Regions from separate parts of the Homo sapiens genome. Here region 1 is linked to region 2. The links come from fine-mapping of genetic effects on gene expression. A gene starts in region 2. The other region holds a variant in brackets. All regions are shown on one strand. Distances are between the middles of the regions. Region 1 overlaps BTNL9 (butyrophilin like 9). Region 2 holds the start of BTNL9 (butyrophilin like 9).

The links. PIP is the estimated chance that this variant, and not a neighbour inherited with it, causes the effect.
Region 1: its variant is fine-mapped to the expression of BTNL9 in whole blood (TOPMed, PIP above 0.99).

Annotation. Positions count from the first base shown.
Region 1 is chr5:181,058,311-181,072,548 of GRCh38, reverse strand. BTNL9 (butyrophilin like 9) reads right to left here. Exons shown (of 11, transcript NM_152547.5): 10 at 14,171-14,197; 11 at 11,028-13,312. The coding sequence ends at 12,687. It also overlaps the pseudogene RPL13P10. Among named protein-coding and RNA genes, the nearest start is that of MIR8089, 22 kb to the right of the region's middle. The variant G/A (reference allele first, on the strand shown) is at 9,121.
Region 2 is chr5:181,033,879-181,046,394 of GRCh38, reverse strand. BTNL9 (butyrophilin like 9) reads right to left here and starts at 6,129. Exons shown (of 11, transcript NM_152547.5): 1 at 5,963-6,129; 2 at 797-928. The coding sequence starts at 905. MIR8089 (microRNA 8089) reads left to right here and starts at 2,911; the gene lies at 2,911-2,992. RefSeq lists silencers at 1-513, 9,857-10,235 and an enhancer at 8,686-9,612.

The sequences.
Region 1 (14,238 bases), 25 kb before region 2:
AGACAAAGATCCTGGGAAGGAAAAAGAAAGGAAGTGGAGTTGTTGGGAGGCCTGGCCCGGGCCTACAGATTCCAAACCAGAGGCTCCCATCCTGGAGTTAGGGTGGAAGAGCACCAGCATTATTAAACTTGAAACAATTATTTTAAATTACTTTTGAAAATACTTATTTTTTAACCGTTAATAACCAGAAGAGTTACATTTGGAACACTTTCTAGATCAGTTTTTATTTATTTAAAAATTATTTATTTATTTTTACAGAGATGGGGTCTTGCTTTGTTGCCCAGGTTGGTCTTGAACTCCTGGCCTCCAGTGATCCTCCCACCTCAGCCTCCCAAAGTGTTGGGATTATGGCATGAGCCACTGTACCCAGCTTTGTATCAGTTATTAGATGGTAGAAACTAGAGGCTTAATTCTGGAAAGCATATCTTGACAGTAGTTTAAATGTGAAAAAGTATTTTTAGAAACAAATTTTGGCTGATGTGAACACAGATTCATTGTAGTATCTGATGTTGTCACAGTCTTCAAGAGAATAAAAAACAACCATTCACCATCCTTGATATGTGTTGAAACGCATGCTGCTGTGTGTGCAAATGAAGCCACTTTTATACTTGTATTATTTTGCATCAACTGTCTATTTTGAATTTAAATAATCATGCTTTGATTCTTCATAAGTTTTTACTTTATGGAATTGTTTGCACTGACCATAAAATATAAATAAAAGAAATAAATGTGAAATAAAAAAGTGGTCCAAAGAGGAGGTCATTTCTTTGGGAGGGGTTGGGGGTGGGAAGTAGGCTGGAGAGGGAGTCACCATGGCCCTGGGCATGGTGCTCCTGGAAAGAGGTGATTCCCTGCCCTCCATGGGGATGGAGTTAGGAGTACTTGCCACTCCCCAAGCAGCCCCTAAAAGAATCACATGGAACTTTGGGGGATGTCTGCAAGAAGAGGAGCTTGGTATCTTGTTCTGATGGGCTGGACGACCTGCCCAGAGGAAAAGAAAACTGGGAGATGAAGACCTTAGAGAGAGCCCGCTTAACCCTCCCCAGTGCCAGCCTGTGTTTCCCTTGGGTCAGATTACCTGGGAAGCGAGCCATGTCGAGCTATCTGGCTGCCTCCTTCCCAGGCCGTCTGCCGGGTGGGGAGTGCATGGGAATGTCCTGACACAAATGGCATGGAAAAGAGGCTGGGGGTTCAGCCAAAGCACAGCTGAGGGAGCTGAGGAATAAGGAGGACTTGGGGAGGGTGTAGCCACCTCATTTCCTTTTTAATTGCAAAGCAATACATGCTCCCTGTAAAAATTTATGTGTATCATAAAATTTACAGTGCCATAGTACCCCATAGTATGAATAAACTATATCTGTTCCCCTGGTAGCAGGTAGATGGTTTTCGACCTCTGCGTACATACTGACGCATTGAATATCTTATGTCTTTAGGTGCTAATGCAAATATTTCTGTAGAACAGATTCCTGGGAGTGGAATTGTTGGGTCAAAGAATGTTCACATTTATAAATTGGTAGATAATACCAAAATTGACCTCTAAGAAGCTGCACCAATTTATAAGCCCACCAAAAATGTGCAGGAATGCCCAATTCTTGGGGAATCGTTGTCTTCCCATTGAGATTCCCTGGCGAGCTGGGGATAACTTGATGCCCGCTTGGCTGAGGAGGTCTTTCCCCCACTCTGCTGATGGCAGTGGCTGCTGCCAGTATGCCGGCTACAGCAGGGAGGCACGGCTGGAGCTGCACGCTCCAGGGAGCTGGTGGGAGCCCTGTCCCTTCTGAGTTGGGACTGGAGCTCCAGGCGCCCAAACTGCAGACGCAGACCCAGGCCTCCTGTTGTACGGAGCAGGCGGGAGGGCCGGGGCCATAGCAGCCCAAACTGCACCTGTGGATCCGAGCCCCCTCTGTGCTCTTGGGGGAGGGCTGGGAGCAGACAGGGTCTGCCTTCAGGGGTGTGGCTGCGTCTGCCCTCCTAGGCGCTGCAGCTGCCTTCTTACCTGCAGGACCCGGGCATCTCTGCAGCCTGCACCCTCGGGGGCCCCAGAAAGGACCCCTCCCTTCCCCCACTTCTGTCCCTGTAGGCTCTGGGGCGTCTGCTCCCACTACCTGGCTTTTCTCCACTCCTGGCAACTGCTCCGATCTTGGATCGGATTTGGGGCCGAGCCCTGGGGGCCTTGAATGACCACAGGAGGCAGACGGAGTCCTTGGCGGAAGGGGGAAGGTCCCCAGTAAAGGTCCCTCTTTCAGGTCAGGGCGGGCCTTGAAGGCTGGGCTGCCAGTCCTGCGGACCTGAGTGGAGACTCGTGGTGCCTCTTCTGGACCCGCCCATGGCCACGCATGGGCCAATCGGCATGCACTTCCTCCCCGCCTGAGGCCTATAAAAGTCCCGGGACCAGGCGGACTCGGCAGGAGAACGACCAGCCAGAGAGGACGGCGGAGAGGCTGCTGGACAGACCAATAGCTGGAAAGAGAAGGGTACTCGCTCCACTGCGAGATGCAGGGACTTGCCGGCAGAGAGGAGCTACTGTCTTTGCTTAGAGCTTCGGAGACCTGCAGAGATACCTGAATGACTTACCTGTGGAGAGGAGTTAACCTCTGCAGGACCTCTTTTCTGCTGAGAGCTGAGCACTCCACGGGTAGCCAGCCTGCAGTGAGCAGCTACCCACTCCTCGGAGCTGCTCTAACACTAAATAAAACTCTTTTTCACACTTCACTTGTCATGATGTCCGTGGGATATCTTTTTACTTGTGTCTTCAATTTATTTCCTTAATGTATTAGAGTTGTCAGTGTGCAGATACTTCGTTTTTCTGGGTTAAGTTTATTTTTAAGTATTTAAATTTTTTTGATGCTATTGAAAGTGGTGTTTTCTTGATTTCTTTTGCAGATAGTTTGTTAAATATATGGAAATGCTTATTGCTTTTTGTATGTTGGTTTTTTTTATCCTGCAACGTTATGGAATTCATTGGTTTTAACTTTTTTTAATTAGCGTTTTTAAGGTTGTCTACATATAAAATAATGCTTTCTGCAAATAGGGATAATTTAGTTTTTCTTTGCTACCTCAAATGTTTTTCTTTTTCTTTTCTGATTGCTCTTGCTATTACTGTCAGTTGTGTGTTGAAGTGGTGAGAGGGGGGCATCTTTGCTTTGCACTCGATCTTAGAGTAAAATATTTCAGTATTTCCTCATTATGGTACTAGCTGTGGGCTTTTCATGAATGACCTTTCTGTATTTAGGAAGTTTTCTTCTGTACCAATTTTGTTGAGAGCTTTTTTGAAGAAAACATGAATGTTAAATTTTGTCAAATAGTTTTTATGCATCAACGGAGATAGCCATGTGGTTTTTATCGTTCATTTTGTTAATGTGGGGTATCATATGCATTGCTTTGTCCATCCCAGGGATAATTCCCACTTGTTCATATGATGTTTATGATGTGTTGTCGAGTTTGGTTTTGCTAGTATTTATTGAGAATTGGTGCATCTATGTTCATTGGAGATATTGGCCTGTAGTTTTTTTAATAGTGTTTTTGTCTGGCTTTGGTATTAGAGTAATGCTGGTCTCATGAAGTCAGTTTGGAAATTCTATTTCCATTTCAATTTTTTGGAAGATCTTCAGAGATACTGGTATTCTCTTTAACTGTTGTAGAATTCATCAGTGAAGCCATCAGTTTTTAAGCTTGTCTTTGGTGGGAGACTTTTTATTTTATCTCCTTACTTATACTTTTTACATTTTCTTTCTTCCTTTCTTCCTTTCCTTCCTCTCATTCCTTCCTTTCCTTATTTCCTTTCTTTCTTTCTGAGACAGAGTCTTGCTCTGTTGCCCAAGCTGGAGTGCAGTGGCACAATCTTGGCTATGCAACCTCTGCCTCCCAGGTTCAAGCAATTCTCATTCCTTGGCCTCTCGAGAAGCTGGGATTAGGGCATATGCCCTGAAACCGGCTAATTTTTGTATTTTTAGTAGAGATGAGGTTTTGCCATGTTGGTCAGGCTGGTCTTGAACTTCTGGCCTCAAGTGATCCGCTCACCTTGGCCTTCCAAAGTTGCTGGAATTACAGGCGTGAGCCACCATGCCCAGCCTGTATTTTCTATTTCTTAATGATTCATACTTGGTATATTATATGTTGCTAGGAATTTATCCATTTCTTCTAGATTATCTGATTGGTTGCTGTTCATAGTAGCTTTTTATGATCTTTTTTTTACTTCTGTGGTATCAATTGTAATGTTTCCTCTTTCATTTCTGGTTTTATTTGAGTCTTCTGTCTTTTTTTATAGTTTAGGGAAAGGTTTGTGAATTTTGCTTATCTTTTCAAAAAATCCAGTTCTCAATTGTGTATTGATTTTTTTCTGCTGTTTTCTAGTCTCAATTTCACTTATTTCTGCACTGATCTTTATTGTTTCTTTTATTCTGCTCACTTGGGGTTTTAGTTTGTTCTTTCCCTAGTTGCTTGAGATGTAAAGTTAGGTTGCTTCTTGTGATTTTTCCATTTTCATATTGTGTTATATTTTCATTTTTATTTGTCCCAAGATATTTTTTGTTTTCTCTGTGATTTCTTCTTTGGCTCATTGTTATTCAGGAGCAGGTTGTTTAATTTCCACATATTTGTGCATTTTGCAAGATTTCTCCTGTTGTTATTTTCTAGTTTCATACCATTGTGATTAGAACAGACACTTGATATAATTTCAGTCTTCTTATGTTGTGCTGTAACATAGAATCTATCCTGCACAATGTTCCATGTGCTCCAGAAAAGCATGTGTATTCTGTTGCTGTTGGATGAAATGTTCTGTATACATCTATGAGGTCTACTTGGTTTGAAGGCCAATGTTTCCTTTTTGATTTTCTGTCTGGATGTTCTATTCCTTGTTGAAAGTGAAATATTGGCCAGGCTCATGCTGGCGGTTCACACCTGTAATCCCAATACTTTGGGAAGTCTAGGAGGGAGGATTGCTTGAGGCCAGGAGTTCAAGTTGACCAGCCTGCACAACATACTAGACCCTGTCTCTACCAAAAAAAAAAAAAAAAAAAAAATTGCCAGGCATGGTGGTGGCACACGCCTGTAGTCCTAGCTACTTAGGAGGCTGGAGGCAGGAGGATTGCTTGAGCTCAGGAATTCAAGGTTACAGTGAGCTATGATTGTGTGACTTCACTCCAGCCCAGGCAACAGAGCAAAACCCTGTTTCTAAACAAAAAGTAAAAAAAAAAGTATTAAAGTCATCTCCTACAATTGCATTTTAGTTTATCTCTCCCTTTAAATTATTTTAAATTTGCTTTATATATTTAGGTGCTCTAGTTTTGGGCGCATATATATTTATAATTGTTATATCCTCTTAATATTGAAATATTATTACATAATGACTTTCTTAATCTCTTTTTACAATTTTTGACCTAAAGACTATTTTGTCTGATACAAGTATAGCTAACCCTGCTATCTTTGTGTATCCATGCACATGGAATATCTTTTTGCAAGTTGTATTTTTGTCTATTACTTTACTGCCCTATCAATTCTTTATTTTTAAAGTGAGTTGTCTGTCAATCTCTTCTTTTTAATAGAAGTGTTTATTCTGTTTGTAGTCATTATAGCTATCTCTCTGGTAAGATTTAAATCTAACATTTGCTTTTTGTTTTCTACGTATCTGTACCCTTTTCAAAAAACACAATTCCTCCTATTTGCATCCTATTGGACTAATCAAAATTGTTTGGTATTTTATTTTATCACCTCTATTGATTTTTTCAGTATAAATCTTCATCTTTTGGCATTTTATTTTATTGTTTTTTTCTTAACTTTAGAATTCACACTATGCAGTCTCCATATACTTCAGTCTACCTGGATTTGTTGTAACAATTTACAGATGACATAGAAAATTGAAAATGTTACATATCTTTTTGTGGAAAGGTCCCACTTTCAGGCCAGGGAGGGCCTTGAAGGCTGGGCTGCCAGTCCTGCGGACCTGAGTGGGGACTCGTGGTGCCTCTTCTGGACCCGCCTATGGCCACCCATGGACCAATCGGCATGCACTTCCTCCCCTCTAAGGCCTATAAAAGTCCCGAGACCAGCCAGAGCAGGCCAGAGAAGGACCACAAAACAAAGAGGGCAGAGAGACGACTGTACAGACGACCAGCTGGAGAGAGAATAGTACTCTCTCCACTGAAAGCTTCAGAGACCTGCCGGCAGAGAGGACGTATTTTCTCTGCTATGAGAGCTTCAGAGACCTGTAGAGACATCCAAATGACTTGCCTGTGGAGAGGAGCTACCCTCTTCAGGGCCTCCTTTCTGCCGAGGACTGAACACTCCATGGGCAACCAGCCTACAGTGAGGAGCTACTCACTCCTCTGAGCTGTTGGAACACTAAATAAAACTCTTCTTCACCCCTCACTTGTCTGTGTATGATACAGGAAAAGAACAAGAATTTGGGCAAAGTGCCACAGCCACAGAGGTTTCCAGGAGATACACCAGCAAAATCAACACCCCAGAGATCCCATAACACTACCACCAAAGAGCTTCCCATCCTCAGGCGCCCTCAAGCAGCAGAAGCCTCCCAACCAGGTTCAGCACTGGTGTATTCTGTACACTGGACGGAGATACACACGAAAGTGCTGCAATCACCCTTTTCCTACTTTTGAGGGTTAGCTGCATGGAAAATGTGAACGATAGGGAGAAGGACATCCACCATGTGCTATTTGTATACACTTGCATGGGGCCGCTTGCAGGAGGGAAACGTGGGTTTTTACTCTGCATGCTCCAGCCTTCTGGGCAGCCTCTCCCGGGGCCTTCATGGTTCACAAAATGTATACCTGAATGTCTCAGGTCTCTCTCAGTTTAAGGCTGGGTATTGGACCCTCCCACCCCCTTTTTTTTTTAAGTCCCCGGAGGGTATTTATTTTCTCTTTTCAACATCCTGTTCTGCAGCTTGCATCAGCTCTCCATATGCCGAAGAGCCAGGTGTTGGCACAGGCCATGTGGAGACTAGCAAAGGCTTTGGGGCAAAGGCTTTGAAGTTCTCCTCCTCGGTGATGATTTAGGCTTTCTCCTTCCTGTAGACATACCTGATGGGCATAACGGGTCTGGTCAATCTGGTGGCCAATTTCAGTTCTGCTGAACTGTCTCTCTTCTTGGGGGCCAAGGGCTTCCTGGGGAGAGGATGAGTTTGGTCCCATGCACCTTTAGGTGCCGTGCATTGGCCTGCGGGACTCAGTGGACTTGTTCTGTCATCTTGGCTCCACAGAGATGCCAATGGTTTGGCCCAGCTTCTTGTGAATGCCAGCTACCCTTAGCTCCTCCAAGCTGCAGACCCTGCCTACTTTGGTATGATGCCTTACCACGAGACACCTTACTATGGGCTGGATGGGCCCAGGAACGGGGGTCGGGGTGACGGGATCTTTGGCTGGCTGGTTGAGCCACATGGTTGTGTGCCGCTGTCAGCCCTTGTGAGAGAGGGGTTTGAACTTAATGCCACTCCAGCTGGGGCCCCTGGCTGCCTACAGCCCTCCTGCACTGGAAAACAGCCTGCCCATCATTTAAAGTGGGCTGATGGTGTCCACTGATTATTTAAACACAGTTTAGCATTGTTTTTTATATTAGCTGTATGTTTGCTTTTCTTATTTATCACATAAATACAGTCTTAAAGGAATAATAGCTACAGATGGAGAGGGAACATATTTTTAATGTTATCACAAAAACATTCATGAGTAAGAACCCTAAATATTCTCACACTAATGCAAATGACTCTAGAAAAAAAAACTTCCATTTTCTGAATATCATGTGTTAATTAAGGGGAATAGCTTTCTCCCAACAGGTGACCAAGAATATTTTCATAAGCTTAAAATGCACTTATCTGACTTGATGGAGAAACAAATTACAATCTCCCTCTAGAATTGCACAAACAATGGTCTCTGGAGCTGGCATCTCATGAGAGCTGATCATGGGTGTCTCTTCCTGCTATGGTCTGAATGTGTCCCTCTCCACCATGCCCCACTCACATGTTGAAATCGTAACACCCAATGCAATGTAGTAGGAGGTGGGACTTTTGGGAGGTGCTTAGGTCATGAGGGTGGAGTCCTTATGATGGGATTAATGCACTTGTAAAAACAGACCTGTTAGAGGCTGGGTGGCTCACGCCTTTAATGCCAGTCCTTTGGGAGGCCGAGGAGGACAGATCATGAGGTCAAGAGATCGAGACCACCCTGGCCAACATGGTGAAACCCTGTCTCTACTAAAAATACAAAAATTAGCTGGGTGTGGTGGTGCATGCCCGCAGTCCCAGCTACTCTGGAGGCTGAGGCAGGAGAATCACTTGAACCCAGGAGGTGGAGGTTGCTGTGAGCTGAGATCGCGCCACTGCACTCCAGCCTGGCGACAGAGTGAGACTGTCTCAAAAACAAAAAACAAACAAAAAAAACAGAAACAGACCCTGGTAGGGGCTGGATGAGGTAACTTATGCCTGTAATCTCAGCAGTTTGGGAGGCTGAGGTAGGTGGGTCACTTGAGGCCAGGAGTTCCAGACCAGCCTGGGCAACATAGCAAGACCCTGTCTCAATTTAAAAGACAAAAATATAAACGGACCCTGGAGAACTCTCTTGCTGTCTGCCATGTGAGGATACAAAGCAAAGCAGCAGTTTGCAACCCAGAAGAGAACCCTCGCCAACCCTGACCGTGCTGGGACCCTGATCCTGGACTTGCAGCCTCCAAAACTGTGAGAAATAAATTTCTGTTGTTTACAAGCCACTCCGTGTATGGTATTTTGTTACAGCAGCGAGAGCTGACTAAGGCACTTCTTCCGTGTGTGGTATTTTGTTACAGCAGCGAGAGCTGACTAAGGCACTTCCTCCATGTGTGGCATCTTGTTACAGCAGCGAGAGCTGACTAAGGCACTTCCCCCGTGTGTGGCATCTTGTTACAGCAGCGAGAGCTGACTAAGGCACTTCCCAGTCTGCCCTCAGTGGTGTCACATCTTTAGCTTGAAATCAACCATAGTGGGAGGACTTGCACCAGGGAAATTGGCTCAATATTTTTTTTTTCAGAAAGCCAGTTTTTTTTTTTTTTTTTTTTTTTTTTGAGACAGAGTCTCACTCTGTCGCCCAGGCTGGAGTGCAGTGGTGCAATCTCGGCTCACTGCAAGCTCCGCCTCCC[G/A]GGTTCACGCCATTCTCCTGCCTCAGCCTCCCGAGTAGCTGAGACTACAGGCACCCGCCACCGCGCCCAGCTGATTTTTTATATTTTTAGTAGAGACGGGGTTTCACCGTGTTAGCCAGGATGGTCTTGATCTCCTGACCTTGTGATCCACCGCCTCGGCCTCCCAAAGTGCTGGGATTGCAGGCATGAGCCACCGCGCCCAGCCTAGAAAGCCAGTTATTAAACATTTATCAGACACCACTGCATTTCTTTATCATTCTCTCTCTCTTTTGTTTATATTACTATATGTCTTAATGAACCATTTGAAAATAAGGTATAAACATCATAATCCTTTACCCCTTAATATGTAAGTGTGCATTTTCTTAAAAGCATTCTTCTACATCAAAATGAGGAAATTAACATTTATCCAATATTATTATCTAATCCACACACCTCTTTCAAAATGCCCTTTTTTCCCCCAATAATCTCCCCCCGCCGGACTCGAGCAATCATTCCACCTTAGCCTCCGAAAGTGCTGGGATTACAGGCCTGAGCCAATTTGTCTGGCCCAGTGATGTTTTTTATAGATCCAGGATCCCATCCAGGGTCACCTGTTGCACTTAGTTGTCCTGTTTCCTTTAGTCTGAAGCAGTTCCTTAGTGTTGTCCCGTCTTTCATGACCTTGACATTGTTGAAGAGTACCAGTCAGTTTCTGTGATGTTTCCTCCTGATTTATGCATTTTTGGGTGCAGGAATACCTCAAAAGTGATGCCGTTTGTATTCTGCATTGTATCAGGAAGAATGTGATGTAAACTGTTTTCGCATCTGGTGATGTTAACTTTTGTCATTTGGCTAAGGTGGCGCCTGCCAGCCTCCTCCACTGTAAAGTTAATTGGTACGTGTTTTGTACTTATGAGTTAAGAAGTAATATTTTCAGACTCCTATTGTAGGGCAGAGCTTTCTCTTCTCTCCATGAATTTGTTTATGTATGTATGTATGTATGTATGTATATCAGTGGGGAAATATACATATGGATTCCTATTTGATTCAGGGGTTCAAAATCCATTCTGACGTCTAAATCCATTCGACATGGCTCTTCTGTGCAACCTACTTCCTTATTTTCTGGTGTAGGATATTGTAGGCTCTCCTTGTATTTTCCCTGCCCCAGCCTTGGACTCAACCATTTCTCCAAGGAGACTTTATTCCTTTTACTGAAAATCGTACTAAAAACTAAGTTCTGGGTCTCGGTGTGCCCGTTGGTACTGGGGTGTTATTGTTGCTAAGCCTTCAAACAAGACAGAGCTGGGAACGATCTGCATGCACCCACACATATCTGTGTATCTGTCCACGTGTGTGCGTGCATTCCATCTCTCTACATGCAGTAAAACCCACGCATTCACATTGATACATCTCATTCCAGTCCACCTCAGAGTCACCCTCATCCTCTCCTTTCCCCTTTCCGTATTTCGTATTTCCCTTCACTGACAGCGAAACCCGACTCTCAGCGCACTTAGTGAATTCCCGACTCTCAGCGCCACTTAGTGAATTTTTTTATTTGTGCCACCTCCCTCTGGTACGTAACCGAACTCCCGGGCCTGTGGGGCGAAAGCTCATCCCAGAGGTGTCCCTGCCCCATCCGTTCCCATCCTGGTGCTAAAGGCCCTAGTAGAAATCTCAGTCCCCATGAAGAGGAAAAGAAAAGGAGAGGGAAAGAGGGAAGAAGGAGGAAAGACCAGTTAGAAAGCTTGGCTGCGGACCAGTCTCCCTTCCTCATTCCCCCTTTCAAACAAGACGGGCAAGGAAAGCTCTGCCTGGATTAAGGGGAAGGGGATGAGAGCCATATTTACTTACTCTGAAACAATGGCCTAGGAGATCGTCCAGCAGTTTCATTATAGCTCCTTTCAAATGAATGATTTTGAATATGAGTATTTAAAAAAAGTGTTTTCCCCTTTATTACAGAACTGATACATATACATTATTGAACATTAAAAAATACAAAGAAGACATTTTAAGAATGCAATTACCAAACATTTTCCCATCCAAAGATAATCACTTAGTTTTTTGGTGTATCCTTCTCCCCGCCACCCAACTCTTAGTTTGCAAAATTTCAAACCCACAGCAAAGCCACATTGATAGTACAATGAACATCTGTCGACCAGTCACCTAGAGTCACCAAGTGTTGTCATTTTACTACATTTGACTTGTCTCTTTCTTTCTTTATATTCATATGTTTTATATTTTTCCACTTAGTCACTGGAAATTCAGTGGCAGACACTGTGGTAATTAATATCTAAAAACTTCAGTATGTTTGCTAAGAACAAGAATGTTCTCCTACATAGCCACAGTACAAATGTCTCACTCTGAAAATGAAGCCAGGCACAGCGGCTCATGCCTGTACACCCAGCATTTTGGGAGGCCCAGGTGGGAGGATTGCTTGAGCGCAGGAGTTTGAGACCAGCCTGGGTAACAAAGTGAGACCCCCGTCTCTATAACGCACTTAAAATTGGGCATGGTGTTGTGTGCTGAGGTGGGAGGATCACTTGGACCCAGGAGGTTGAGGCTGCACTCCAGCCTGGCCGACAGAGACAATGTCTTGGGGGTAGGGGGTGAAGAACACTTCTTTCCCCAGTTGTCAAACTAATAATGTCCTTGGTCCCATCATTGATGATGTTAAATTTAATCACTTGGATGATCTGGTAGATGTCTCCATTGTAAAGGTAACCTTTCCCCTTTCAAACTTATAAGTAGTGTATAAGGTTACTGCTTTGAGACTGGAAACAGCCTGTTCTCCAAGACTCTCACCAATAATTAGATTTCACCTCCAAAAGAAACCTTCCTGTTTCTCCTTTTTAAAAAGAAATTTGAGTATCAGCATGAACTCATGGATTATGTTTTTATTCAGTGTGTTATAATCTCTCCTGTCATTATTCATCCTGATGTTCAAATTGTCCCACAATTGGTCAGTGAGGCCCCTTCGGCCTGGCTCCCTACCCTTTTGCCGGGTTGCCGTCACGTTTTGAGCCTTTATTTTACTTCACCACACACAATGCTCCAGGCTCACCTTGAAATTTTTGCCCCGGCTCCAGAAGCAGCTGTTCCTCCAACTTCATTTTAATGGGAAATGGTTTTTAAAACTAGGATCTGAGCCTTACTTAGGTGAACTCGTTGCTTACGAAGTGTTATTGCATCTCGACCTTTTTAGAGCTAGCAAACATATACAAAAAATATAAAACTATACAAATTAACTGATCCCTCTAAGGCAGTCACCAAAGTTTTCTCCCTTCTTTCTTCCATGCTGGCTTCTTGCCCACCGCCCACCGTGAGCACCCCAGCTCTGAGCGACGTGGATATATTTGTACTCCTTCGCTCAGTCCCACAATCCACAAACGAGCTTTGGACTTGTCTCCTTTCCTTGAAGAAAATCGCACTACACATACACATCTACGTAGGCAAAGGTCCCTCTCTTTGTCCCCCTCGCTGACATTTTGGCTGGTGCACCTGCTCCCTTCAGACGGAGCAGGAGAGCAAAGCGCTGGCCTGGGATCCAGGGGGCCCCCCGGGGCCAGTCCCGCGGCCACGAGGGCGCCTCACCACCAGTCCAGGGCGGGGTCCGCGGGCTCATAGGGCTGTAGCCAGGTGTCACTGTCGTTCTCTTCGGGGACGCCCGTCCCTCTAACCGGCAGCGGGCAGATGGTCAGGGGATCCGGATGTTCGCCGCCGTCGTGGGCCCTGGGCCTGAAGTACGCACAGAGCGCGCCCGAGAAGGTGTCGTGGAAGGTGAAGATGTGGGAGCCGTCGGACACGTTGAAGAAGGACAGCTCTCCGGCCTCGTAGTCCAGGAAGACGCCCAGGCGCCGCGGGGGCACGCGCAGGGTGAGCGCGACGCGGTGCGGGGCCAGGACGAAGTACTCGCAGCCGTTCCACAGCCCCAGCACCCAGTAGCCGGCCGCAGGGCTCAGGCGCGCAGGCCCCGCGCGCGGCACCGCGGCCAGGCAGGCGCCCAGGAACCAGCGGCTGCGGCGGCCCACGTGCACCTCCCAGTAGTGGCGGCCGGCGGAGAACCGCTCCAGGCTCAGCGCGCACGTCTGCTCCGAGAACCGCTGCGGGTGGCCAGGCGCCGGGCCTGGCGGCGCCCCGCGGGAAGACACGCTCTTGCCATCCTCCGACACCTCCAGGCTGGGGTGCGCCGAGGCCGGGTCCAGCGTCACATCCACTGCGCAGAGCCACAGCGTTAGTGCCCGCCCGGGACGGTCTGGGCCCCGTCCGTGTCTTCCCCAAGGCGGACAAACCTCTCGTTTCTCTTGGTGGAATAATCGAGGAAATGAACCCCTTACCCCGACCCTCACCCCTGCAAACCCCCTCCCCAGGACTGAAGTGGCATGTGTCAGTCACTCCTGAGTGTTTGATAGTGACAAGGAATCCTGTCCTTTCCTGAACTGGAAGGTCCCTGAATTCCATACCAGAGATAGCAAAGGAAGTAGGCTGGCGGGGAGGGAGCCACGTCCCGGTCAAGGGGAAGGACCTATGGGCTGGTTCTAGTTCCTGCTGGTGGCACCACCCTGCGTGACCTTGGCATAATCAGGAGAGCGCTGAGCGTCATTTTACAGAAATTTTGGATTTTTTTTTTTTTTTTTTACATACAGTCCTTCAGAAAAGTTTTTAAAAGGATTTTAAAAGGACCTTTGAGATCATCTAGTCCAGTGCCCCACATTTCAACACCCCATGCCATCTGACAGATGGGAACCTAGGGGACCCCTTCGTCAGAGAATCTGGGAGGTTCATTACAGACTCTGCACTCTCGCCTGCAAATAGCCTCAAGCCAGATGGAAACAAACCTAGTGTAACCCCAAGGAGCGATGTGTTTGGGAGCTCACGTGTGCATGTGTGTGCATACACATGCAGGCATATGTGTCGTGTGGCGTGTTTGCAAGTGTGCGTGTGTGTCTTGTGTGTGCAGGCCCCATACTTGGCTCCTATAAAGCCCCGTCCTCTAATCTCAGATCTCTCCACCTCCCTTCTGTTTAAGATCCGGCCAAACCAAAACACAAATCAGTTTCCTGGCTTCAGTTACCTGCATATTTTTGGGCTGCTCTCCACTCTGAAACCAAACAGAAAAGGGGAAAAAAGCTCAGAAATCTC
Region 2 (12,516 bases):
TCTGCTCCCTGCTATGCCTGTGGATTTCGGAGTGCTGGGAAGTGTGCAGGAGGTGTTGGGGGCTGGAGAGATGGTGGAGGAACACTACAGGCTGGGGAGATGGTGGAGGAGGTGTTGGGGGCTGGAGAGATGGTGGAGGAACACTACAGGCTGGGGAGATGGTGGAGGAGGTGTTGGGGGCTGGGGAGATGGTGGAGGAGGTGTTGGGGGCTGGGGAGATGGTGGAGGAGGTGTTGGAGGCTGGGGAGATGGTGGAGGAGGTGTTGGGGGCTGGGGAGATGGTGGAGGAGGTGTTGGGGGCTGGGGAGATGGTGGAGGAGGTGTTGGGGGCTGGGGAGATGGTGGAGGAACACTACAGGCTGGGGAGATGGTGGAGGAGGTGTTGGGGGCTGGGGAGATGGTGGAGGAGGTGTTGGAGGCTGGGGAGATGGTGGAGGAGGTGTTGGAGGCTGGGGAGATGGTGGAGGAGGTGTTGGGGGCTGGGGAGATGGTGGAGGAGGTGTCGGGGGCTGGGGAGATGGTGGAGGAACACTACAGGCTGGGGAGATGGTGGAGGAGGTGTTGAGGGCTGGAGAGATGGTGGAGGAGGTGTCGGGGGCTGGGGAGATGGTGGAGGAACATCACTACAGGCTGGGTAATGCTCGGGGTAGTGGCTCTTTAACAACCAGGATGGAAGTCTTTTTTGTATTTTAGCGTCTGGCACGCCCTGGTACTGTGCTAAGATCGTAGCCCTGGGGAGCACCTGGCAGGAGGGGTGGCGTTCACATCCTGGCCAGCTAGGCTGCAGACACAATACCTGAGCTCGGCTCCCCAGGCTGAAGGAGGAGGAGGTGCATGAGGAAGACAAGACTGCTGGTCAGCGATACTGGCTTCAAGGAGTCTGGGGAGACTGAGAGGTCCACCATCTCTCGTCAGCAGTGGGGGCCACCTGGAGAGGGACAAAGGGGTGCTGGAGCGACGTGCAAAGGTAGGGGGAGCTGGAACTCACTCCATCAGACCTGAAGTCTGTTGTGGCCTCAGTTATTTTTGTCTAGTTCTCAAATTCCTTACAAGCCTCAGCGCTTGGCTTCTTCCATGGCCAGAGGGGAGAGCTGCTTCTAATTTTCCCAGGGGACACTGTTAATGGCATCCGTGGCCTTGCCCAGGTTCACAGAGCTGCAAGGGGACGAGGCTGAAGGATCCCAGAGGAAGCAGCTTCTGTGCTGCTTATTGTTTAGAGCCAGGAATAGAGCCACACAATGTGTGGGGGCTCAGCGCCCCCCCTTTTCTGGGCTTAGCGACTTTCCTCAAACAAAGGGCAATCTCTGAAGATCTCAGATGCATTTTCATTCTTCCTGCCTCACCACCACCAACCCAACCTTCGTCCCACTTCCCTTTGGTCTGGAACATCGAGTCCGCAAAACAGAGGAACAAACACAGAGTTCTGCTCTCTCAGAAGTGGAGTGCATGCAGGTGGCTGCCTGCCAGCCCCAACGACATCCTAGGACACTCTCCTCCAGGCCTGGGACCTCAAGTTGTGCCTTCAGGAGGCCAGCTGGTAACTGTCTCTGTGTCGATAGCATCTTCGGGGCTACAGTGATGGAGTCATCCCATCTAGCCACCCCTTCCTCATCTATGACCCAGGAGGCCCAGACCTGGCCCAGACAAGGGCTACCCCCTCACTCCTGATGCTCTGCTCCCTTGGGACCCACTAATGACTCACGGCCAGAGAGTGTGCTGCTGCCAATGAGTCTCTGGAGATACACAAAACTCTCCATATTTCTCTTGCATTTAGTTCTGCAAGATTTTAGGCAGATTCTGTCATTGGCTGGACCGAAATCTCTGCCTGAACCATGGAAGAAACCAATGCCCACTCCCATGGGTTGCTAGGAGCTCTTGAAATCAAAGTCAGCACCTCCCTTCCCCCTGCCTTCCCAACGCCCACGCACTGTCTTCGTCCTGGGACTGCACCCCTTGCCTTTCACTTCATCACAGTGCCCTTGTTGGAAGGCCACGGTGGGCTCCTCTCTCCAACCCTCTCTGTCTCCCCGTCGGCCCCCACGGCTTGGCTTTTCTTCCGAGACCTTGGCATGGCAGGTGTTTCCGGTGTCCTGTGGCCACAGGGCACTGGCCACACTGTCAGCAACACCATCAGCAGGTGTGAAGGAAGGACTTTCAAAGCTGCTGGGCCATGCAGAGGCAGAAGGATCAGAGGAGGTGTGCAGGGTGAGTTAATGAGGTGGTAGAGGCTCCCCAGGGACCCTTAGGCTAGGAGGCACCCAGACAGGCAGGAATACAAGGGAAGAGGGGTGGCCTGTGAGGCGCATGGGCTGATGGCCCTGTCTCCTAGAGCTAAAATTGAGGGGACAAACAGAGGACAGGTTGGGACAGCTCCAGGTGTGTTTCAAGAAGGTTCAAGGACAGGAGGTGGGGTCCCCCCGAAGCGGGGCCGTGTTGACACCTCTCAGTTATTGGAACACGATTCACACAATAACCAGCATGGGCAGAGGCCTCGGGCAGGGTCCAGGCCCTGGCTGGACAGTCCAGACTCTCACCCTCTGTGGCTACTGGTGGAAGCCTCTCTGCGACAGGTGGGGAAGCTGGCAAGGAAGGGTTCCAGCAAAGGGGTCTACACTGGTTGTGCACCTTCTCACCCTCTCTTCTGTTCCCTTCTCTTTTCCTTTATACTTCAGTCTTTTCTTCTGGATTCTAGACACAGGTTAGAGCTCCATGACAGCAAAACCAGGAGGGGCACGTCAGTGTTCAGCTAGTAACTTCCAAAACCAAGAGGGGCTCAGGGTGTGTTTATGCATCCATTCAGATGGGTTGGGTTCTGGGGAATTAGTCGAGGTTGTGTTAGGTTGTGACACAGGTCTGCTCATAAGGTGGTAATGGGGCGCGAGACAGGTCCCACAGCTGGCCTTCTCACAGAAGGAGCACTCACTCCAATTTCCCTGGACTGGGGGCAGGCTGCCACCTCCTGGGGACAGGGGATTGGGGCAGGATGTTCCAGAACCGTGGAAGTGCTAGAGGGACCTCAGTTCTCTGTTGTGATACACCCGTGTGATTCCCATCATGGAATCTTCAGGGGAGGAGGATTGTAGACACACACACACACACACAGACACACACACATGCACACACACACAGACACACCCATGCACACACACACAGACACACACATAGACACACACACAGATGCACACACACAGACACATACACACACACACACGTGCTGACAGTAATAAAACTAACATGCATTGGGTACTTCCTATCTATCAAACACTTATCTATACCTCAGTATTATTATTTTTATTATTATTATTACTAATAGGTCCAAATTATAGATAAGGAAACGGAGGCCCAGGAGCTGAGTGACTTGCTCCTGCACACAGTGGGTGAGTGGTGGGGTGGGGTTCCACCCACTGTCTGGTTCCAGAGCCTCGCTCTGCACTTCTCGAATTCAGATTCCTCACCAGCTACGTCGTGTGTCTGGGTACACCCTTCCGTCACTCCTGTTACCCAAAACCATGACCGTCTCAGGAACCAGCTGGCCACAGACCAAACACTCACCCTAACCTGCCATCACACAGAGGCACTGAAGAAGCGACCGGCTCACACGGTGCCAGCCACAAAACCAGCCAACCAGCCAACTAATGAATACAAAATTTAAAATCCCGCTGCCAGATAAAACAACTTAAAGCTGAGGTCTCCCTAAGACTTTGTCAAGAGCATCTTCTGAGCCAGGAGGAACAGGTACCTGGTCCCTTTGCTCCCAACACTCAAGGGTATCATCTTGAAAGCCTTTAGCAGAGAGAGATGGTCTGGCAGCTTCCTGAAGGGAAAAGTCAGCGGCTCCTGGACAGCACCCTCCTCCCCGTTTGCTGCTGTGCGTCCGCCCTTTCTGACCTCACTCTTCAGTTAAGGATCCAGGGTGCTCAATCCTTACTTGAAGCGTAAGTCCCCTCCTCGAAGGAAACACTTTCCACCCTCTGCTATTTTGATTACAGTGTAAATTGATTTCAGGTTGTTCCTGGTGAGGAGGTTTTGCCTGGGGAAGGAGTAAGGGACTGGACGCGTCGGATATTTGGGGAAGAAGGAAAACCCAGTGTGCGCAAGGACCACAAAGGGGTCCTCCAGCTGGAGCTGAGCTCTGCCGGCGGGCACGTGCTGCTTGTCCTCCCAGGAGCCTTGGGCTGCTCCCTCCGGAAGGCACAGGGAGAAATAAGGGGTCCTGAGAAATGTCACTGCCTGCACCCAGCAAAAGCCCATTTCTTTCTTCTCCTTCTCTTTTTATTTTTCTTTTCTTCTTGCTCTCTCATTGCCCCCAGCCCGCCCCACTCCTGTTCTCTCCTCCTGCACCTGCAATTCCTAAACAACCCTGATGTTTTTCTGATTTCCGGTCCCTCCGTCGAGTCTGTCTTTAAAGATGAGTACTTTTTGCTTTGCTACTGTTATTTTTTTAGATAATTTATTGTTAAATAAAGAATTTTAAAGCAAAATGCAGTGGGACAGATGTCAAAGGCAAGTTGAAAACATAATTTCTGTCAAATACTATTCTGGATTTCCTAAGGTTAGGCACAAGAAAAGCATCAAATGAAAAGGTACTTACTCAAACTAAGTCTTTTTAAAAAGTCTGTATTTGAAAGGAAAACAACTTTTCACTAAAAATATAAATCATTCTTATTACAGGAAAACCATAATTTAAGAGACTGAGAAAAGTTTTTGATTCACAAATAAATGGCATCTCCCTAATACACTTAGGACTGTTTGTTTTTAATCAGTGACTCTTAAAAATCACTGCTTCCACCTGACAAACTCAGGCGAATCACTATGGATTGGTGTCCTCTGAGCCACCCTGAAGCATCCCATTTTCTCTACACATGTCCTTTTCTCCAACTTTCAGCAAAGCAAGAATGGAGAAAAAGAGGATTAGAAGGAACTTCAGTTGGTTCCCTGGTGAATAACTTAACAAAATAAAACCTGCTTTTCCATTTGTATTACACATTCACAATCTCTCACTCTTACTTACTCTATTGGTGAATTTCAGATTCTGTCCACACATATAATTATTTGCCTGAACTTAACACTATCTTCCTGACAAATAGTAAATCTCCCAAGGACATCTCCGAACCTGGCAGTGTCCACAGGCCACGTCCTCCCACAGGAGTCCCTCGCCTGCTATGCAGCTGTTGGCGTCCTGAGCGATCCCAGTGTTTCCATGGGGGCAGAGCAAAACCTTGGGGATTCTCTAACATAATTTTAAGACTACATTTCACACTTAAATGACCACGTTATGAAACCTGGCAGGAAAATCCATGTTATTAATAAATGCCATGTCTCTTGCTCTCCCAAACACAGGAAGTATTTTTTGCTCTGCATATGTCTGCGGAGACTGTGGGGTCCCAGAGTGGAAAACTTCTCTAGTAACAAAGTACAGAAATTATCCCTGAAGTATAGTCTTTGCTTTGCTACTTCTGTAAGCTGTGTAACTGGTGAATTTTGCCTGTCTCCTGTCCTCCACTCCCCAAGCTGCAAGTCCGCAGGTGTCAGTGGGGCCTTGGCCCTCTCCCACGGGCCTCCCCGACACCCCCTGCAATGCCCTTCCCCCCGGCAGACCCCAGCTAGTGCTCACTGCCTGCGCTGGTTTGATTTCGATAGGTCCACAAGAGGATTTCCACCCTCTTAGTCTCTAAGGAAGATGGACTGCCCCAAGAAGGGAACCGCAATGAGGCTTGAAATCTTTTTCGTCTGGTGGGGGCAATGGGATGTATCAGGATCCTGCCTCCTGAGATGCGGCCCACCTAAACGGGCGTGGACATCTCCTCTTGGCCACACTCGAAACATCCCATGCTGCGGCCAAGCTCGGATAATAAAATGGTGCCACTAATTGTACGCCTTCCCAAAGCCTCCCACCTTCATTTTCTGATTGCCGTTTCTGAAAGATGGAGGTGTAGGCAGCTGTTGAGAATGAGCCACTTACCTGGCAGGTAGCAGCAAAAGGTCTGAAATGGCAGATGAGTCCTGGTGAGCTCACCTCCTCTGCAAAGGGTGATGATTGCTGTAAAGTGTCTTGGTCCCAGATGCTAAGATTCCCTAGACGTGGACTGGCAGCTGAGCTCCAGAGGCCAGGGCACGTGTGACAGAATTATTTATCCATCTTCCACCCTAAGATATATGCCGTTTGCTCTGCCCTTGGCTATGGAAACCAAGATGGATAGAACAAAACAAGGAAGTCGTCACATCCTGTCTCTGAGAAAAATCTTGAATTCCCATGTAAAATATCTCTCCAGGGTCACAGAAGGAGGGGAAAGGTATCTGAGAGCTTTGTAGAGAGCGACAGCTGCAGAGGCTCAAAGTGAGGAGAAAACGCTCCAGCTGGGTTCAGGGTCTTTGTGCCAGTGAAGCTCGGACTCCAAGGAGGCAGGGTAGCAGTCCCCGAACAGTGAAAGAGAGTAGACTGCAGTCTCCACTAACTAACCACGAGGAAGGGGCTGATGACCAATTTTTAACCCACCATAACCTTCTCCTCAGGACAAGGTCAGTAAGGAACAAATCCTGGGGGCATTGTCGTGAGGCAACCTGCAAAACCTGTTCACGTGCAACTTAGAAATGCAGGAGGGTGCTGGATTGGGATTTCTCTAGTGGAGAAGAGGTCAGAAAAGAAGCAGCAAGCACTACCCCAGCCCAGCCCACCCCATCTTACTGTAGGCCATGGTGCAACTTGGGCATTAGCGGACTGAGGCACCAGCCACCCAGCTGCAGCCCACACTGACGTCCCCTCCAGGGAACAGGCCAGAGCTGAGGCACGAGCAGCTCAAGCACATGCAGTGTTGTGGGAAACTGAGGACCGGAGAGACCGATGTGAAGAACAGGAGGATTGTTTATTTTAGGTACACACCGGCTCAGTGGACTCACATCCAAAAAGCTGAGCATTAAACAAAGACAGAGCGGGGTTTTTGTAAGTGGACTTACAATAAATAAAACAAAAGCAGCTAATCATGATAGGTCACATAATCTATAGCATAGCATAACTTGTGGCCTTGCACAGCGGGTGACTTTGTAGCTGCATTGAAAGAAAAACAAGAACTGGCTAAGTACAGACATTTGTAAAACACAATCATGCTTAAGAAGCCTGGGAAAACAGTAACAGTAAAAGAATTTGTCTTTCTCTCTTTTTCCTTCAACCTTGCTCTGGAAGTGGGGCGGCGGGTATCTGGAGCCCATTCCTTTGGCCTTGGCTTTCTGGACACTGTTATAACTGTCCTTGCAGTGGGCTTGCTATAGGCAGAGGAAAACTTGTCCTTTACTTTTTAACCCTTGCCTTGCCTGTTACTTTTCTTGGAGTGAATGAAGGCATATGTATTTTTAAATTTTCTGCCTCAGTAGCACACCCCAGGGACTCCCAGAAGTGCCTGTGTTTGTAGAGGGGCCTCTGCAGGTGACAGGGCGCTACATGGGTGGGAGACGGGAGCCAGCAAGCTTCAGGCATGGACCTGGAGGTGACTGTCTGTGCTCAGACAGGCTGGTGAGACTGGGCACCCAGGCTTATTAATGTGAACAGATGTCCCTAGGACAGCAAAAGGGGCTGAACAGTGAGCTCAAACAGTGGGTGCAGTTCCCCGGGCCTGGGGAGACAGAGGAGGGCTCAAGGACAGGGTATACTTAAGATGGATGCTGCATAAACAGTAGGATCAGGGAAGCCATGGGCAGCCCGGGAGGACAGAGCCTGCGAGGACAGACATTCTTCGTGGAGGGAGGTGATTAGCATGTGGGAGGTAGGAAAAGGCTAGGGGTTAGCCAGACCAGTGTGTGGCTCACTAGTGGAAGGGAAGGTTGAACAGAAGTGGATGGGACCACATTGCAGAGGCCCTTGCATGCCACATAGGGAAGTGAAAGAGAAGGAAAATTGCACTTGTAGAGAGGGGCTGCTCGAAAACGAGAACATGGCCTAAACTTTTCATTGCCCTTAGGTTGGATTCCTCCATGCTGCCTGGGGAGAGGTGAGATTGTCACAGCAGAAATGCAAAGAGAGAGAGAAATGGGCAGAGTCCACTTCTGTGGCTCCTAGACACAGCCCTGGTGGGATGTGGGAGGGGGACCCCACCTGCCACCACCGCCTGCATATCAGGCGCATCATGCAGTAGGAAAGATGTAGACAGCGGCTGTCCCTGCCAGCCGAACCTCCCATTCCAAGACCCAGTAAATGCATAAAGGCTCAGATCCAAAATGAAGGTAGGTGCTGAACCCCTGGCGGACTATAGGTGCCACTGGAGAGAATGGACCCTCATCTGTCCTTGTGTGGGATTTTTGGGTGTCAATTTTCTTCCCAGAAACCTCTGTGGCACCTGAGTTCTTGTCCTGCCTCCAGGAAGAATGAGGTCATGAGGTACACAGACAAGTGAAGGGTGAAGAAGATGCAGAGAAGCTTTATTGAATGCTAGAACAGCTCAGAGGTGATCTGCAGTGAGCTCCTCTCTGTAGGTAAGTCCTCCCCTCCCACTGAGTGTTCAGCTCTCAGCAGAGAAGGCCCTTGAGAGGGTAGCTCCTCTCTGCCCACTGGTCCTCCTGCCACCTGCTGCTCTCAGCAGACAGAAGTCCCTGGAGAGAGTGGCTCCTCTCCACAGGCAAGTTGTTCTGAACACCTCTGCAGGTCTCTGAAGCTCTCAGCAGAGAGGGTAGCTCCTCTCTGCAGCTGGCCATCCCATCGTTTCTCCATCCTCTGCCCTGCTCTGGCTGAGCCTCAGGCTTTTATGCACCTCAGAGGGGAGGAAGTGCATGCTGATTGGTCCATGGGCAGCCAGAGGGAGACACCACAAGTCCCCACTCCAGTCAGAGGGACTGGCAGCCAGGCCTTCAGGCCCTCCCTGGCCTGAAGGCGGGGCCTTACTGGGGACCCGCCTTCTCCCTCCAGGGACTCTGTCTGCCTCCCACTGCCATTTATGGTCCCTGGCTAGGCCCCAACCCCGCTCTGAGAGTGGGAGCAGAGAGAGGCCAGGCAGTGGGAAGCAGACAGCCCTGAGCCTGCAGGGATGGGGGTTGGGGGGCTGGGTACAGGGTGGTTCTTCCCAGGCCCTGGAGGTGCAGAATGCACAGATGCCGGGGTCCTGCTCCTGGGAGGGTGGCCGAAGCTGCACCCGGGGAGCTCCTGCCCCATCAATTCGGAAGGGGCAGGGCTCCTGCTTGTCCTGGCTCCTGCCTCCTCCGTGGAGCAGGAGGCTGAGGTCTGCAGCTGTGGGTTGGGTGGCTGCAGCTGCACGCAGAAGGGCAGATCCTGCCTGCCCCTGGCTCCCACCCAGGAGCTCAGGGAGGCTTGGATCCACAGCTGCAGTTTGGGTGGCTGTAGACCCACACAGGAGGGTTGGGATCCTGCCTGATCTGTACAGCAGGAGGCCTGGGTCTGCAGTCACAGTTTGGGTGACTGCAGCGGTACCCGGGGAGCTCCCGCCCCATCTCAGAAGGGGCAGAGCTCTTACTGGCTCCGTGAAGTATGCAGCCCCAGCCAGGCCTCCCTGCTGCAGCCCCTGTGATGGCAGCGGCCATCACGTGGAGGGAGGTGATTGGCACGTGTGGGGTAGGAAAGGCTAGGGGCTAGCCAGGCCAGCATGGAGCCATCACTTGGACAGCGGAGAACATGCCCCATTATATAGCTTCCGTGGTGCACAGCAGCCCTCACCATGAGGTCGTCTGAGGGAATTCTGGAGGGGCTAATGGGAGAATCCTCATCCCCAGGGCAAAGGCTATTCTCACGCCCAGCGTGGGCTACCAGTGGAGATAGAAGCAAAGTCATGCCAGCCTCGCAAGTAGTGAATTCCTCCTTTTCTGACGATCCCCCATCCACCTTCCCCGGCAGCCCACAACATGGCCCTTGAGCTTCCTTACTGCATTTTCATTTTCTCCTGTTCCGTTCTCCAGGGAGCTCACACTGACATTCTTGTGCCTGTCAGCTGGCACAGTGCCCCCCATTGTGCTTTGTCACACAGATAGAGACGTGCACAGGCACTGGGAGATAGGAGAGGCCCACTGCTGCCCTCACAGCCACAGGTGCTCATCTTTGGCTCCTGAGATTGTGGGGGCTGCAGGAGCCACACACACCCTCTACTCCCAAACAGCCTGACCTCGCCAAGGCAAGCCATTTTCGAGGGTGACTTGAGTGGTGCTGCCCAAAGGGATCAGCACGGAGCATCCCTAGCTCGGAGGAATTCCTTCACTGCAAGAAGTAGCCAGCACCTTCTCCTGACACACAGAAGTGGGTAGAATAAGGAGCTCCAGCTGCGGGCTTACGCCAGGTAGAGTGAGCATTGGTTATGGAGGAGACCCCGTGAGAACAGCGCTCATCTGAGTCCCGACCATTGGTTATGGAGGAGACCCTGTGAAAACAGTGCTCATCTGAGTCCCGACCATTTGTAGGAGGGAAGTGGGTTGGTGCCCTTATATTACACCTTTTCAGAGAGCCAGCCAAAACGCAGTTTGACAGGGTTTGAGTTGCATAAACAGGTGGTAATAATAATAATAATAAACTAGGGGGAGCTGAGCGTGGTGGCTCACGCCTGTAATCACAGCACTTTGAGAAGCTGAAACAAGGGTCTTGTTTGTGTCCAGGAGTTCGAGAGCCCAGAAGTTCTAGACCAGCCTGGGCAACACAGTGAAACCTTGTCTCCATTACAAATTAAAAACAAATAACCAGGTCGTTTCTTAAAGAGGGTGCTCTTGGTTATTCAAACCTGCTGTCCCCGGCAGACGGTGGGTTCTCCTGTTTCATCCACACTCTCTCCAGGCACCTTTAGGGAACAAATAATACTGTTTGCTTTAACAGGAGGAGAACTTTTGAAGAAAAAAATTATGTTAAATTTCCAAATAAGGCAAAAAGGTAGGTAACATGTCCTTTCAGTGTCATGTGGGCACTGGCCCAGCCACAGATTACTTATGGAAGTGTACTTTGATTACTGTTTGCCATTACTTAAAAACCCCAGATTTAGTGAATTTGCATAATTAACTTGTAGACTTTTGCCCAGTAGAGTTGCAAATAATTTTTTTCTTTTTTGAGACAGGGCCTTGCTCTGTCACCCAGGCTGGAGTACAGTGGCACAGTCACAGCTCACTGCAGCCTCAACCTCCCAGGCTCAAGTGATCCTCCCACCTCAGCCTCCCATGTCACTGGGACCACAGGTGACCAGCTAATTTTTTAATTTTTTCTTTATAGAGATGAGGTTCTCATTATGTTGCCCAGACCGGTCTCATACTCCTGGGCTCAAGCAATCCTCCCCCTTCAGCCTCCCAAAGTGCTGGGATTATATACACGAGCCACTGCATGCATCCAGATAATTTCTATCCAGTAGAAAAATACAACCCAAAAGGTTATGGTGTATCGCCTTCTAAGAGATTATCCAGTTCTGTAGATAAGGCAGCAGTCTTACCACAACGTTTCTGTATTAAACTGCCTCTAAATATCTAATTCCTTTTTTTAAAAAATAATTCCTGAAGTGCTTCCTGAACTAGTCTTTACCACGTCATTGGTTACCTCAAATTAAGGGACTGAATAAAATCTATTACACATGATCATTTTATAATTGAATGAGTCATGTTTTAAAAGTTTTTTGAAAATTGTACTTTGACAAGTTGTCAGCCTAGAAACAGCTTTTCTTACAAGTCCTCTGACCCTGGTCTTAATGAGCAGTGCCTGTCAGGACCCATCGGCCTGGCCTCACCAGGACTGTGTGCTCCCTGCGTCCCAATACACCCCCAGCAGAGCCAGGATCAAATAAGATCATATGGAAAATATTGTCAACTGGGCTTCAAACAGTGCCTTCCTTCTAAATACTAGAGGTCCTTTAATGCAAGAAATGTTTAAAAGAGTACTTTTTAAAGTATTTAAAAGAGTACTGTTATTATTTTATTACTTTCTAAAATGTTAGATTTGGGGATTAGGAGTTATCATTTGGCTTTTTTTTTTGAGACGGAGTCTTGCTCTGTCGCCCAGGCTGGAGTGCAGTGGCGTGATCTGGGCTCACTGCAAGATCTGCCTCCTGGGTTCACGCCCTTCTCCTGCCTCAGCCTCCCGAGTAGATGGGACTACAGGTACCCGCCACCATGCCCGGCTAATTTTCTGTATTTTTTTTTAGTAGAGATGGGGTTTCACCGTGTTAGCCAAGATGGTCTCCATCCCCTGACCTGGTGATCCACCTGCCTCGGCCTCCCAGTGTGCTGGGATTACAGGCGTGAGCCACCGCACCTGGCCTTGGCTTTTTTTTAAAGAGACAGGATTTCACTCTGCCAACTAGGCTGTACGTAATGCAGTCCAGTGATCCTAGCTCTCCGCAGCACTCTCCGAACTCCTGGGCTCAGGTGCTCCTTCTGCCTCAGCCTCCCCAGTGGCTGGGACTACAGGTGTGCACCACCACGCTGTGAGAGTCAGGGCTGCGAGTCATCAACACTGACTTACTGGGTCCTTACTATTTACACTTCCTCCAGGGTTACAGCTACATTTTTGAACAAATACCTTTCAACTAAGGAACTTTTACAAAACTTCAGAAGGGA